Regions from separate parts of the Homo sapiens genome. Here all the other regions are linked to region 3. The links come from fine-mapping of genetic effects on gene expression. A gene starts in region 3. Each other region holds a variant in brackets. All regions are shown on one strand. Distances are between the middles of the regions.

Region 1 (5,000 bases), 71 kb before region 3:
TCCTTTTTATCTTCCTGCATGTTTGAAATATGTGTTACATGCAAGAATGCATGCAGAAATAGGGTCTGAAAGGATACAAAGGAAACCAATAACTAGAGTTATTTTGGGGGCAAAACTACAAGGCATGGTTTGTAAATTTTCTGCCTTGTACACATCTGTATCATTTGAGTTTTACAAAATAAGCACTTACCACTTTTATAATAAAAATGAACTAAAATAAAATTGCCAATCTGTATAAACTCCTCTATTTTTCTACGATTATTTAAGGAAAACTGGACCAGAAGTACCACAATAGCAGGAGTAGACTACTATCATGAGGCTGAAGATGACAGAATGTCTCTACAATGGAGCCCAGCTTACTCATTATAAGTCTTTTCAGTCTGGTCACATCATGATAGGTATAGAAAAGCAGGCAGTGAGATATTTCCCCATCTCTTCCAGCTCTGCCAGATTCTTGGTAGTAACCCTCCACAGATTTAGGGAGAGATGCATGAATCACAAATCGCACGTCCGGTTTGTCAATCCCCATTCCAAATGCAATTGTAGCACAGATAACCTGATATAAAAGCAAAAGCTTATTAGATTCATAAGGCACAGACTTGAAGGAACATTTTCATAATAGATGCTTCTAAAAGCTCTATCATTTGTTTTACTTTAAAATGCACACTACATAACAACCTAATATCTTAACTTGGTCCAACTATTTAGTATAACTAATATGAGTTTTTATACTGATAACTTGCAATGCCATTAAAACCCAAGAAGGTAAAGAGAAGCTCAGCATGGCAGGCACTTTCTTGTATGACTTGGCATTCTCATGTAAGAGAGCCAGAATCAACTGCAGTCAGCCCACGATGTGCTGCCACTGTTCTCTGTTTTTGCTACTGAGGTGTGGGGGGTGTTGCTCACACAGTCATGATATCCAGGTCAGTGATCACAAGCAACGTGTTGCTCAGGAGCTCCAGGGTGTTCCCAGGGCTCCTCAGAGGTCACTGCTGCTAGTTCCTCCAATGGTTCAGGAACAATACGTTCTTACCTGCTCCACTGCTTATCATCAGTTTTCCCAATAGCACCAGCTGATCACACATCAACTCCTTCTATTCATCAGCTGATTTAAAGTCAAAGCTTGTACAATTTTAATGGAAACTCATGTGGGTAAAAGTCTGAGAGCTACTTATACCAAAAAAAAAAAAAAAAAAAAAAAAAAAAAAAAAAAACACCAGGGACTGCGGATCTTAGACCTTACAAATTACTTAGTGGAAGCAAGGTGATAGTTCACTCTCAGGAGCTTGATAAATCAGTTTTCAAGGATATCCATTTCAGTTGAGAATTTAGGAGCTATTTAACCCAGACCAAAATGTTATATCTCCAGGCAAAATTACACTTCACAAATAAAACTGCAAGTTTTTTTTTAGCACTTAAAAAAATGAATTGCTACTGCAAGAACAGTATTTCAAAGGCATCTGAAATATCTGGCAGGCAGACTGAGACTAATGACATGATTTCAGTAACTGTGAGTACCAGCGGAAGGAACTGCAAGCTCTGGAGTATGTGGACAGTAAAGGGGTACATTTATCAACACCAGGAATGGCGGTGAGTGGCCTGCGCTCTCGGTTAGTCATCCATCTACATTTATGGCACTCTGATCAAAGGCAAATCTCCTTGGAAACAGAAAGACTATTGTAGCTTCTAGTGATGGAGAGCAGGTGGAGAAGCTGCACAGCAAGATGTGTCAGCCGACAGGTCCGGAAGCATGACCCACAGGGTTCCATGAAGTCCAGGTGCATCTCCCAGTATCAGGGCGGGCACAGGGCTGTGAGGCACCGCCTGCAGCCTCCAGATGAGGATGCAAGGCTGCCAACTCTTTCTGAAAGCTCTTATTTCTTGAAATTGGGAAAAGTGGCTTTGTTTAATTGTGATTTCCTTCTTTATTTCTGCGCTTTTAAAACTTCAAGCCACAATCATTCTTTGTGAAGAATAATGGCCAAGTTTTATTCTATCTCATGAATCTAACGAGATCAAGTCTGTCGAGCTGGTGTAGGCTAATATTACATGCTGACTGTAAGGATTAATTAGTCTGAGAGCAGAAATAATTAGGTTTTTATAAACCCCTATTGTTTAACCATATTTTTTATCAAAGTTATATATATATATATATATATCTCCATTGTAGATTATTTATACTATACATAACCATTTAAAGCACTTGAAAAAAATCATTTTTTTTTTTTTTTGAGACAGTCTCGGTCTGTTGCCCAGGCTGGAATGCAGTGGCGTGATTTTGGCTCACTGCAACCTCCACCTCCAGGGTTCAAGCTATTCTCCTGCCTCAGACTCCCGAGAAGCTGGGACTACAGGTGTGCACCAGCATGCCAGGCTAATTTTTGTATTTTTTGTAGAGATGGGGTTTCGCCATGTTGCCTGGGCTGGTCTTGAACTCCTAGGCTCAAGTGATCTTCCCACCTTGGCCTCCCAAAGTGCTGGGATTACAGGTGTGAACCACCATGCCTGGCCCTTTCATGCAAACTTTTTCCTTATCATGTATTGTTTTTACATGTTTTCCTGTTCCACTGATCTGCCTATAATGTACTGCAAACTAGTGTTCCTGTATTATTAGGTTTTTTGCCAAACTCTCTTAGTTATTTTCACTTGAATATTCTTCCAGGCAAACTTTAGAAAAAGTTTATCAAAGGGAAAAGAACAAAAAACCAAAAAAAAAAAAAAAAAAAAAA[AC/C]AAAACACTGGCATTTGGGTTAAATATATAAACTAATTTGGGAAGACTAAAATCAGTATTTCAGTGAAGACAAATGAGTGATGTATTTCTAAACTTTTTGCATATCTGAAAATGACCTTTTGTTGGTTTCAACATAAATGACAGTGAGCTGGGTACGAAATTCTTCAGTCCCAGTCTTCCTTCTTCCAATTCTGAAGACAGTCTTCTATTATTTTTGTTATATATTTGTTATGTATTTATTTATAACACACTTATCTGTTTCAATTATCCTGCTTTCTTGCTTGGGTACACTTACTATTCTTAGGCTGAATCCTTACCTCCTTTTGTCAACAAAGATAATTTCCACCCCACCCCATTTTAATCTCTTTTTTCCCTTGCATTCTCAAGCTACTCACTACATCACTGATTCTATTGTCTCCACTGAGACTGAGTCATTCCATTTGTGTCTTAATATATAATTCTGCTCTTAGTTTTGTTTTTCTTACTTGGATAAGCTGAATTTTTCTTTCTTTTTTTTTTTTTGACATAGAGTCTTGTTCTGTTTCCCAGGCTGGAGTACAGTGGCACGATCTCGGCTCACTGCAACCTTCGGCTCCCAGGTTCAAGTGATTCCCCTGCCTCAGCCTCCTGAGTAGCTGGGACTACAGATGCCCATCACCACGTCCGGCTAATTTTTGTATTTTTAGTAGAGACAGGGTTTCACCATATTGGCCAGGCTGGTCTCAAACTCCTTGATCTCAGGTGATCCGTCCACATCGGCCTCTCAAAGTGGTGGGATTACAGGGGTGAGCCACTGCACCTGGCCATAAACTGGATTTTTATTTCTCCCTTCATCTCACCCTGTGATCTTATGGAAGTTGTTACTAGTTCACGTATATTAAGTCTTCTTATATCTTTCTCGGGATACTAAACTGATATCCTCTAAAATTTTCTGTTTTCCCAGAGAAAACAATTTTGAGAGATATTTTTCCTCTGAATCTTCAAAGTAAATACTTTTTCCTGAGCTGAAACTTTTCATTGGCTCCAAGTAATTATTAGTTGTTTTGCTGAAATTCATCCTTTCATTTAGAGGGATCTATCCAAGGCTGGCATTTACCACAATAAGAGATGCCTAAAGTAGGCTGGGTGCGGTGGCTCACGCCTGTAATCCCAGCATTTTGGGAGGCCGAGGCGGGCGGATCACGAGGTCAGGAGATCGAGACCCTCCTGGCTAACGTGGTGAAACCCTCGTCTCTACTAAACATACAAAAAAAAATTAGCCGGGCGTGGTGGCGGGTGCCTATAGTCCCAGCTACTCGGGAGGCTGAGGCAGGAGAATGGCGTGAACCCGAGAGGCGGAGCTTGCAGTGAGCTGAGATCGCGCCACTGCACTCCAGCCTGGGCGACAGAGTGAGACTCCCGTCTCAAAAAAAAAAAAAAAAAAAAAAAAAAAAAAGAGATGCCTAAAGTATTTTCAGCTTTCCTCCCCACCCACCTGGGTGACGGCAAATTTCTCATCTCGGAAACAGATGCCCAATATTGTTAGTTACTAGGGAAATGCAAATCAAAACCACAAAGAGGGCCAGGCGTGGTGGCTCACACCTGTCATCCCAGCACTTTGGGGGGCTGAGGTGGGCGGATCATGAGGTCAGGAGTTCACGACCAGCCTGGCCAATATGGTGAAACCCTGTCTCTACTAAAAATACAAAAATAAGCTGGGTGTGGTGGCATGTGCCTATAGTCCCGGCTACTTGGGAGGCTGAGGCAGGAGAATTGCTTGAACCAGGAGGCGGAAGTTCCAGTGAGCCAAGATTGCGCCACTGCACTCCAGCCTGGGTGACGTGAATTCCTTGCTTGAATTATTCACGTGTGTGGTCTTCCATGTAAATAAAAAAAAACCCACAAAGAGATACCATTTCCCACACACAAGGATGAATACATTAAAAAAGCTGGACAATAAAAAATATTGGTGAAGACGTGGAGACACTGGCACCTCATACATTGCTGGTGAGAATGCAGAACTGCAGAGCCACTTTGAAAAGCAGTTTCACAGTTCCTCTAAAAGTTAAACAAAGAGTTGCCATTTGACCCAGCAAGTCCACTCCCAGGTGTCTACCCAAGAGAACTGAAAACATATGTCCGTGGAAAAACTTGTACGTGAATGCTCACAAAGCCATTATTCATAGTAGCCAAGAAGTAGAAACACATCGGGGATGGTGGCTCACACCTATAATCGCAGGAATTTGGTAGGTTGAGGCAGGATTATCACTTGAGCCCAGGAGTTCAAG
Region 2 (5,000 bases), 92 kb before region 3:
GGAGGCTGAGGTGGGAGGATCACTTGAGTACAGGAGGCAGAGGTTGCAGTGAGCCGAGATTGTGCCACTGCACTCTAGCCTGGGCAACAGAGTCAGACTTTGTCCTCAAATTAAAAAAAGAAAGAAAACTTTAGTCATAACTATTAGTCAGTAGATGTTTTAAACATCTGAAGCAAATATTTTTTGTTGTTTCTTGAAGCAAATATTTTTGTTTTGGATCAAACCTTAATTGTCACTCCATTAACAACTGTCATTCCATTAGCAATATTTAATAATGGCTTATTTTAATAAATCCTTCAAAGCAAGGCAGAGCTGTTGCACTTTTGTCCTTTCTTCCCTTGTTCCCTATATTGAAAAAGATGTCACAAAACATACCCCTTTGCCTTGGAACCACTGGAAGCAGTTTTTCTCCTCTTAGACCTTTGGGAGGCTGGCATCTTTTTCCTCTTCCTTTCATTTCTGGTTTTACTTGCAAAGTAGTGGGAAGATACGGGTATTTCCTCGTCGAGCTCCTCAGCGGCACTTCTTCCGGGGCCTCTGCTGCTGGACAGGCTTATCCCTGGGGAACTGTCTTCAGCTACAAATGGAAAATGCAGATGTTTACAGGTGATGTCGCACTGGTCCACGTGTTTTTAGTGTATATGAAGAGACACGCTGCAGGGGCCCATTTTAGCAGATACCTAGCTGCTTCCCTGCCATATGGATTCAACAATTCAGCAAGAACCAAACCTTTTTTTACTGCACAAAGCCCCAAAGTGTTCAATGGCAATTCATTTTTAACAAAAGAGAATCAGAATTCATTAAAAAAATTTGTGATAGTCTTGAAGTTAACTAGAGACATGAGGTTTAGCTCATACTGTCGCATATGGCCTGTGTTCCTGTTGTTGATTGGGCAGTTAGTTCTGGTAGGCAATTCAAAAAGTATCAACTGCTATAAAGATGGCAGGCAATTTTACTTATTTTAAATGTGCTGAAAAAATCAGCTCAATATAAGGGAAACAAACGGTCCTGTATCTCATCTTTGAACAATAGTTTCTTAGTAAATGAACATAAGAAAATTCTAGATCCTATTTTACTCTTTACAGACAAAAAAACTTGTCTTTGCACAATATGGCTGAACATGTCACATATTATGCGGGAGGTGAGACCGCATGAAAGCACACATTTGCAAAGAAGATGGTAATTTCCATAAGTATTTGCATCCCAAGGCACCCAAAAAGCATGAAACCTCCCTATAGATAGCTCACACGGGGACCCAGTCTCCATTTCCTGGCTGGTCTGCCTTGTCCTACAGGCCACCCTACAGGAGCAGCATGGAGGGCACAGGACTCCACCATGGCTGCTCCAACCCTGGCTCACTGTCAAAATGTATTCGGAACAAGGCTTTTAATGGACTAATTACCATATAGAAGAATTTAGGAGAACCTGACCAGGTGTGGTGGCTCATGCCTGTAACCCCAGCACTTCAGGAGGCTGAGGCAGGTGGATCACTTGAGGTCGTAAGTTCAAGACCAGCCTGGCCAACATAGTGAAACCCCAACTCTACCAAAAAAATACAAAAATAAGTCAGGTGTGGTGGTGCATGCCTGTAGTCTCAGCTACTGGGGAGGCTGAGGTGGGATAATTGCTTGAATCTGGGAGGCATAGTGAGCCAAGATTGTGCCACTGAACTCCAGCCTGGAGTGAGACTCTGTCAAAAAAAAAAAAAGCGACTAGGTAAAGAGAGAACTTGAACTATCTCATCCTGCTCATCATTTCCATCATCCTTGGGAAGACCCCCACACTGCCTGTCTGGAAGCAGGAAGAACACTGAACCGGGCCTGTCTGTTGTGTCCTATTACGTGGTGATGTTATCAGAGGGCAGAAGACTTCTGTGCTCTCAATATTTCCTACAACAAAATGCTTTGTTGTTCTCATTTCCCCCAGGTCAATGATTTCTAAAGCTGTAATGATGATGAAGCTCATGATTAGAAGTGCCACAGGACAGGCCTAACGTGACTCCGGGAACGTCTGATAATGATGCACTCAGGCAGGTTCTATCAATGACTAACAATAATAACATTCTAGCTGCATGCTCATTTCTCCAAAACATTTAAACACTAGTCTTAAATTTTATCTTTAGACATGTTTGTCAGATAACATGTTCCTTCCTTGGTGGAGGAACCTGATTCACAAAGAGGCTATTGGTGGCCTGCTAGAGACCACACAGCATGACGTGGTGGCAGATCTGGAACTGGTACCCAGGGCTCTGATCCCTTGAGCACTTGCATTACGGGAACCAGCAACCCCTGGGCCCAAAGGTCCCCTTTTGGATCCTATGAGTAAGTTCAGAACTGGCACTCACAGGGGGCATAAGCACTAGTGTCCTCTCAGAGGTGACTGGCACACCACTGGGGGCTGACTTGGATGTCAGTGTGACGAGGTGTAGGAAGCATTCACACAACTGCATCCTTCTAATTCAGTGAGACGCGTCGCTTCACATTAAACAGGCTTTTAGAGAACACACATGGCTGTGTACTAACCTGGCGATGTCCATTCAGAGTATTTCTGTAATACTGAAATCACTTCCGCACCATATTTTTCCAGTTTGTCTTCAGTAACACCATCAATTTGAAGCAAAACCTCAGGATCAGAAGATAAAGATTCTGTGCAAAGGCATAAAATTAGGAATTTAAATTATCACCCATAGAAAACCCACTGAATTCAGGCTCATTCACGCATTCAGCACACGTCTGCTAAGTGCCAACTAACTGCAGGGTACTGGGAACACAGGCCAATTTTGTAAAAGGCAAAGTTAGCACCTCAGAGGCAGCAGACAGGCACAGAGGGCAGGAACCCACCATCCAATTCCAGCGGCATAGGCCAGGGCAGAGCAAGGGCAAGAGCCAGGGCAGGAGGAAGCTGAGGGTGGGACCTGTGCCATGTGCGTGGAGTGGAGCAGATCTGCTCTTGCCCACTGTTCCCATGGCCAGTACTCATCTAGCTGAGACTGGTGTGCCCTCTCTTTACTGAGAACGCTGCATTTCTATTTCCAGCTCCAGCCTCTTCTCTGCACTCCAGACTTGTACACCCCACCCTAGA[C/T]GGCATAACCAAATTGTTACTTCCTCCAGCACAAACTTTTCTTCCTCCACTCTTTCCCCATGTGGGTTGAGGCAACAAGCAGCCAGCTGAGTCCTCTGCATAGAGGTCGCATATCAGTCTTGCAGCTAGACAAGCCTGTCATTTAAAGGCCACCCTGGCTGCTGTTTAAGAACTTGACTGTAAAGGAAAGAGTAGAATCCGGGAGCCTGGTGGAAGCCATTGCAGGAGCGAGTGAGGATGGAGTGAACTGGAATGCAGTAGTGGAGACACAGTGAAGCAAGCTTGGGTGAGTTTTGGAGGCTGGCTCTGTAGGACTGACTGATGCACTGGCTCTGGGTAGTGAGGGAGTAACCATTCCTATGTATTTGAGCTGAGCAAAGAGTGGATTTCAAATCCTTTCCCATCTGTGATTTTCACATCATTCCCATGTTTAGAGGAAAAGCAAGAGACTGTGGACAGAACAGAAGGTTTATGAAGGGGGTTTAATGAAAGATAAAGTAGGAGAGGCAGGAAGAAATGTAGACCCTTGATAAAATGTATACTTTATCTGGGAAGCTGTTGTAGTTTTACTAGGTTTTGAAAGATTAAAATGTACATCACATTCACAGCTGGAGGTAAGGAGGACAGTTAAGAAACTACACTAATCGCCTAGAAATAACATATCATAAAATACCAAATTTCATCAATTCTAAGACACACACCTTTTCACAATTTAGCATTCCTGAGGTCAAGATATGTCTTAGAACTGCTGATGGCTAAATGGCAGCTGCCTTGCGGTTGTTACTGCTCATGCTTGTGAGAACTTAGTCATAGCTATTAGTACTGTCAGCATGTCAACAAAGTCACTGCACTGTTTGTACCTCATGTATTGAGTCTAACTGCCATGACATGTCTTCAAAAAGACTATACTGTGATTAGCATTAAAAAAGTGATTGTGAATGCAGAAAAGTTCTGAAACAGAGTAGCAGGGAATACATTTGGTATTAAGAAAAGCACTATCTGGCTGAGCGTGGTAGCTCATGCCTGTAATCCCAATACTTTGGGAGGCTGAGACAGGGCGGATTGCTTCAGCCTAAGAGTATGAGACCAGTCTGGGTAACAGTGAGGCCCTGTCTCTGCAAAAAAATAAAAAAGCTAGCCAAGCATGGTGGTACATGCCTGTAGTTCCAGCTACTCAGGAAGCTGGGGTAGGAGGATCACTTGAGCCCAGGAGGTCTAGGCTGCAGTGAGCTGTGTTCAACCACTGCACCCAGCCTGGGCGACAGAATAAGATCTTATCTCCAAAAAAACAAAACAAAGCAAAACAAAAAAAACCCAGGCACTATTTGTCTCTGAGGACACAGGCCCCCAATTCCATAGTTTCTCGCAAGTACAACCAAGTGCTTTACGTGACCTAAGAAAGAAGATGCCCAAAGTAGATGAGGCCGCACTACATTTTTGTTACTGAGAGATGTACAACCTTCTGTTGACACCTTCTGGTATCATCAAGAAACCACCACCTTCAAAACAGAACTGATAACAGAGATTTCGATTAAATCCTGGGGAAAATAGTGGAACACTCTGGAAATGCCTTATGGCTAATGAGAATGTTAGTGATGACATAGGGAAAAACAAAGACATGGACGACTCAGTCAAAAAGTGACTCAGAAGAGTCAGGCTTTGAATGTGAACTTTTATAAGTACCTACGGTAATTTGATTATATGTATTTTTCATACAGGCACACAGCTGTGGATAATAAAAATCAATGTCTAAATCAGTAAAACACAATTTTTTCAATAAAAGCACTGTGTCATAGTTTAATTAGCAGAATTTTTTCTTCCTTAATAGTCCATAAAGTAACAGTATCTTAATATAGTTGGCATCTTAGAGTCAGTGAAATATTGTAATGACCGATTATCGTAGGAGAGGGAATGAAGAA
Region 3 (5,355 bases):
AATGCTCAAAAGCCTCTGGTATCATGCCAAGGAGTTTAGATTTTATCCTACAGGTAGTGGAGACCCTTAGGGGCTTTCAGCACTGAAGTCCTAGGATTATTCTACGATTATCTTGGACCTCTTTATTCTATCCATTTTTCTCTTAGAAAAAAACACATATATATGTAAATTAAAATATATATGTATATCTTTTAATTTTTAATATTTCTTACATAAAGATACAGAAAATAGAATTACACCCATGTACCCACCAACCAAATTTAAAAAGTTAAACTCGGCCCTATTCTCTCTCTTTTAAAGGCATAAAACATTTCAGGTAGATTGACTGACGGACTCTCACTCTGTCACCCAGGCTGGAGTGCAGTGGTGCAATCTTGACTAACTGCAGCCTCCTGGGTTCAAGCGATTCTCGTGCCTCAGCCTCCCCAGTAGCTAGAACCACAGGCGCACACCACCACGCCCAGATAATTTTGTATTTACTATAGAGAGGGAGTTTCGCCATGTTGGTGAGGCAAGTCTCGAACTCCTGGCCTCAGGTGATTCGCCCGCCTCATCCTCCCAAAGTGCTGGGATTATGGGTGTGAGCCACTGTGCCTGGCCTCATTTCAGATATATTTAAAATCTCACTCATGGCCGGGCGCGGTGGCTCGCCTGTAATCCCAGCACCTTGGGAGGCGGAGGCAGGCGGATCACGAGGTCAGGAGATCGAGACCATCCTGGCTAACACAGTGAAACCCCGTCTCTACTAAAAATACAAAAAATTAGCTGGGCGTGGTGGTGGGTGCCTGTAGTCCCAGCTATTTGGGAGGCTGAGGCAGGAGAATGGCATGAACCCGGGAGGCGGAGCTTGCAGTGAGCCAAGATCGCGCCACTGCACTCCAGCCTGGGCGACAGAGCGAGACTCCATCCCCCAAAAACAAAAACAAAAACAAACTCACTCATTCCAGGAATGACTATGAAAAAGGAAAAAACAGATAAAAATTTAAAAATCAAAACAATAAACTATCACTCATTCCCCTTACCTTTTTCCCTTCCCTTCCTGCTCATAGGTAATACCACCTGTCCTGAAGCGGATGTGTAGAACTTCCCAGCATGATGATGTTCTACTGCACATCTAACACTTTTCCTGATTTTTTAACTCTTGGTTTCCTCAGTAAAACGAAGGAAATAACTACTTCTCCAGGTTACTGATAGGACTGTAAACTATACTTATAAGGTACCTGTCATGGTGAGTGGCATTGAAAGTGACACAGGACCCAGAAATTTCATTTCTTCCCAGTAGATTATAAGCTACTGTCTGACAGTATAAGCAGCCCAGCTAACAAAATGTTGATTTAATTAATTCTATTTACTATTCCCCAAACAGAATACTTTTGCCTACCCGCTTCTTCATCTTCTGATCTCTCATGCAGTCTCTCGAATTCCTGTCCCTTAATCTTGACAGTGACACACCAGTGTTATTTATCTGCATGGGTGGCACAAGGAGCTGTCAGTCACCTGCTCCATCTCACGCCATGAGGTACCTAAAGTTCTGTGTGACCTAAGGACAGGTGAGGGCTATAGGAGAAAGCCTAATGTTGTGGGACATACTTTAAAATCAGGCGCTTAGTTCAAATCCTGTATCTCTAGCACTTAATCACCAAATGCTCTTTCTGTACGGAGACAACCTCTTTGTACTTCAGATTCTCCATGTCTAAAATGGGGACAATTTCATCCGCTTCTCTGGGTAATGATAACAGAACCCTTACTGTGTACTATGTAACAGGTAGCCTTCGAAGCATTTATTATTGCATATATTAAGTCGTTTAATCCTAACAAAAACGCCAGGAAGTAGAAGAGACCATTTCCCCCATATGACAGACGAAAACCAAGACACTTAGTGTTTCAGTAACGTGCAGTAGACACAGAGCTAAATGTGAAGGAGCCAGAATTCGAACCCAAGCAATCTGATGCAGTATTCTTAAGCACTTCGCTTTGCTGGGATATCGTAAAGCTACAGTTGTAAGATCAAGGGTGCCAGGAACATGGCACACAGTAGACACTCAAAAACAAGAGTAGCCCAGCTCGTGATTATGGAAGGCCACAGAAAAAGTACAAAGTGTTTTCGTTGTTCCTCAGGAGGGACACGGAGGTAGTAGTGCCAGAGGTCTGGGCTGGGATTACTCTGTGCAGGGCATCATGTTACGCACTGGAGTATATGGGCAACAACATGCCAGGTCCTAGCCCATGCTCGGCCTCCGACGCCCCGGGAGACCTTGGCAGAGTTCGCCCCCGCCCCGGGCCTCTGTTTCCCCATTTGGGAACGTATTTATGTATCTGCTGTCCTCCCAGGATGTTGGCCAGACTAGAGGACTCAGCGGGCCGAGGCGAACCAGTGCAGGAAACGGAAGAACCCGAGCGGCCTCCAGCTCCGGGCCGGGCCGCCAGAGCAGGGCTAGATCAATGCGGACCGACCCGTAGTTACGCGCGCGGTACTCACCTCGCACGCAGACTCCTAGCGGACGGAACCAGGATCCAAACTTCCCGCGCCGCAACCACGGCCGCCGCGCCAAGCCCTGGCTCACTTCCCGCCGGAAGCTTGCCTATTCCGATTGGCTGCTTCCTGGGGAAGCCGACCAATACTGTCGCACTCGGACATCTGTTCCCGCCCCCTCAGGCTGCTGGGGCGGGGTCGCCGTACAGCGCCGGGAGGGACGCGTATCTCCAAAGCCCAATCAGAGTCCGGACGGGAGGGTCAGATGACTACGGTTACATCTCGGGCTTCCGGAGCTAGTTGGGTCTTTGTTTTTGGTGTTTTAGAGTCGGTGAAGGCTTTAAAGGAAGTAGGCAGCTGGAACCCGGCTGTGGCGGGTTGAAAAGCCCGGGCGTTTGAGAGCTGAGACTTGCCAGTTCCCACAGGCCAAGCCAGGCGTCTGCACCCCATTCTCTTGGTTCCGACGGTGTGTCTCTGCGATGTTTTGGCGGTCTCTCCTCTCCATCCCCTTAATAATACTGGTCTCTGTTTCACCCGTACCCCTCTACACGAGCAGGTGCAAATTGTCATTGAACCGGGAAAGTGGGCACACACTCAGATGCCTCCATGGACACGTGAGAAACCATGCTTCTGTTTCAGCCTATTGCTGACACGCGGGAATGTGGGCCCTGTGATGCCAGATCTTACTTTCTTTCCTTTCTTCCTCTCTTCTCCCCTCTCTACTTCCTTCCCTCTCTCCTTCCCTCCCGCCCTCCCTCCTCTTTGTGTGTGTGATAAAATCTATCTAACATAAAATTCACCATTTTTAAGTGTACAGTTCACTGGCATTAAGTACATTCACATTGTTGTGAAACCATCACCACTATCCATCTCCAGAACTTTTTCATTATCCCAAATAGAAAATCTGCCTGTTACACAGTAACTCCCCGTTACCCGTTTCTCACAACCCCTTATAGCCGATATTGCACTTTCTGTCTGTAAGTGCGAGGTACCGCATATAAATTGAATCATACAATAATTGCTCTTTTCTGATTGGCTTATTTCACTTAGCATAATGTCTTCAAGGAGCATCTATGTTGTAGCATGTATCAGAATTTCTTCCTTCTTGAGGCTAAATAATATTCCATTATACATGTATACTACATTTTGTTTATCCATTCATCCATATAAATGGATGCTTGGTTATTCCCACCTTTTGGCTATTGTGAATAATGCTGCTATGAACTTTGGTATACAAATAATCATTCTCCACATAATACGCAGAAAGAGTTTTCTAAAATGTAAAAATCTGTTCAAGTTACCTCCCTCCTGAAAATCTTCTATGGTAAATTGAAACCAAAATATGATACTATTAAACACTCCATAGAATAGCTGAAATGAAAAGACTGACAATTCCCTTAGTTGCAAAGATGCAGAAATGGGACTCTCATACAGTGTTGATGGGAGTGTAAAATGGTACAACCACTTTGGAAACATCAGTCTCTACTGAAATCAAATTTACCCCTACCCTATACCCCAGAAATCCCATTTCTAGATATTTACCCCAAAAAATGAATGCCTTTATTCACCAAAAGACTCATAGCAGCTTTATTCATAATAGCCAAAGGGAAAAAACCCAGATGTCCACCAATAGATGAATAGATAAATTGCAGCTTATTCATATAACTGTATACTACTGTTGAAGAATAATTTTAATATCAAATATAATACAGATATAAAATAAATGTTAGAGATTTTATTTAACTCATTAATGAATGAGATATCCAGAAAGATTACAACTGCTTCAATGGAAAATTCAAAGTACCACACACATAGTCAAATGAGGAATAATGAAATAACTACAAATATATACAAAAACTGGCAGAACTGATGAAATCCACAGCTTAGTAATCAATTGCATTCTACTGAAAACAATTTGCATTTCTTTTTTTTTTTTTTTTTTTGAGACGGAGTCTCACTCAGCCGCCCAGGCTGGAGTGCAGTGGCGCAAGCTCGGCTCACCGCAACCACCATCTCCCAGGTTCAATAGAGTCTCCCGTCTCAGCCTCCCGAGTAGCTGGGATTACAGGCACCCGCCATCATGCCCAGCTAGCTTTTTGTATTTTAGTAGAGACAGGGTTTCACCGTGTTGGCCAGGCTGGTCTCGAACTCCTGACCTCAGGTGATCCGCCTGTCTTGGCCTCCCAAAGTGTTAGGATTACAGGCATGAGCCACCGTGCCCGGCCACAATTTGCATTTCTATAGACAAGAAGTGTCTATAGTTTGTATAGTTGTTCTGTAGCTCAAAGACAGTGAAAGGTTTAGAGTCTTCATAGAATCAGACATCCTAGAAAAGTAAGCTGGACAGCTGGGCACCTTGTTTTTCAATGACACCCAGTAATCATTTTTTTGTTGTTTGTCTTAGATGGAGTCTTGCTCTGTCACCCAGACTGGAGTACAGTGGTGTGATCTCAGCTCACTGCAACCTCCACTTCCCAGGTTCAAGCGATTTTCCTGCCCCAGCTTCCCGAGCAGCTGGGACTACAGGTACGTGCCACCACGCCTGGCTAATTTATTGTATTTTTAGTAGAGATGGGGTTTCACCATGTGGTCCAGGCTGGTCATGAACTTCTGACCTCAGGTGATCTGCCTGCCTTGGCCTCCCAAAGTACTGGGATTACAGGCTTGAGCCACCATGCCTGGCCCCAGTAATCTGTTTTAGACCATTTCAAAGCTTTTCTCAGTTTTTTTCTGTATTACAAAGTAATAGGAGGATGAACTACTGGTACATACAATATAGATGAAGCTCAGACACTATGCTGAGCACAAAAAGAGGTAGATAAAAGAGTATATAGGGCCGGGCGCAGTGGCTCACGCCTGTAATCCCAGCACTTTGGGAGGCC

Evidence for each region. PIP is the estimated chance that this variant, and not a neighbour inherited with it, causes the effect.
Region 1: its variant is fine-mapped to the expression of BLM in monocytes (Fairfax 2014, PIP 0.95).
Region 2: its variant is fine-mapped to the expression of BLM in whole blood (TOPMed, PIP above 0.99). The same link has a PIP of 0.9 or more in blood mononuclear cells, lung and monocytes.

What each region holds. Positions count from the first base shown.
Region 1 is chr15:90,786,205-90,791,204 of GRCh38, reverse strand. BLM (BLM RecQ like helicase) reads right to left here. Exons shown (of 22, transcript NM_000057.4): 15 at 361-556. Among named protein-coding and RNA genes, the nearest start is that of BLM, 71 kb to the right of the region's middle. The variant AC/C (reference allele first, on the strand shown) is at 2,733.
Region 2 is chr15:90,806,782-90,811,781 of GRCh38, reverse strand. It overlaps BLM (BLM RecQ like helicase), which reads right to left. Exons shown (of 22, transcript NM_000057.4): 20 at 2,523-2,645; 21 at 376-577. Among named protein-coding and RNA genes, the nearest start is that of FURIN, 59 kb to the left of the region's middle. The variant C/T (reference allele first, on the strand shown) is at 3,082.
Region 3 is chr15:90,714,565-90,719,919 of GRCh38, reverse strand. It overlaps BLM (BLM RecQ like helicase), which reads right to left and starts at 2,574. Exons shown (of 22, transcript NM_000057.4): 1 at 2,480-2,574. It overlaps CRTC3-AS1 (CRTC3 antisense RNA 1), which reads left to right and starts at 2,780. Exons shown (of 4, transcript NR_120372.1): 1 at 2,780-2,939.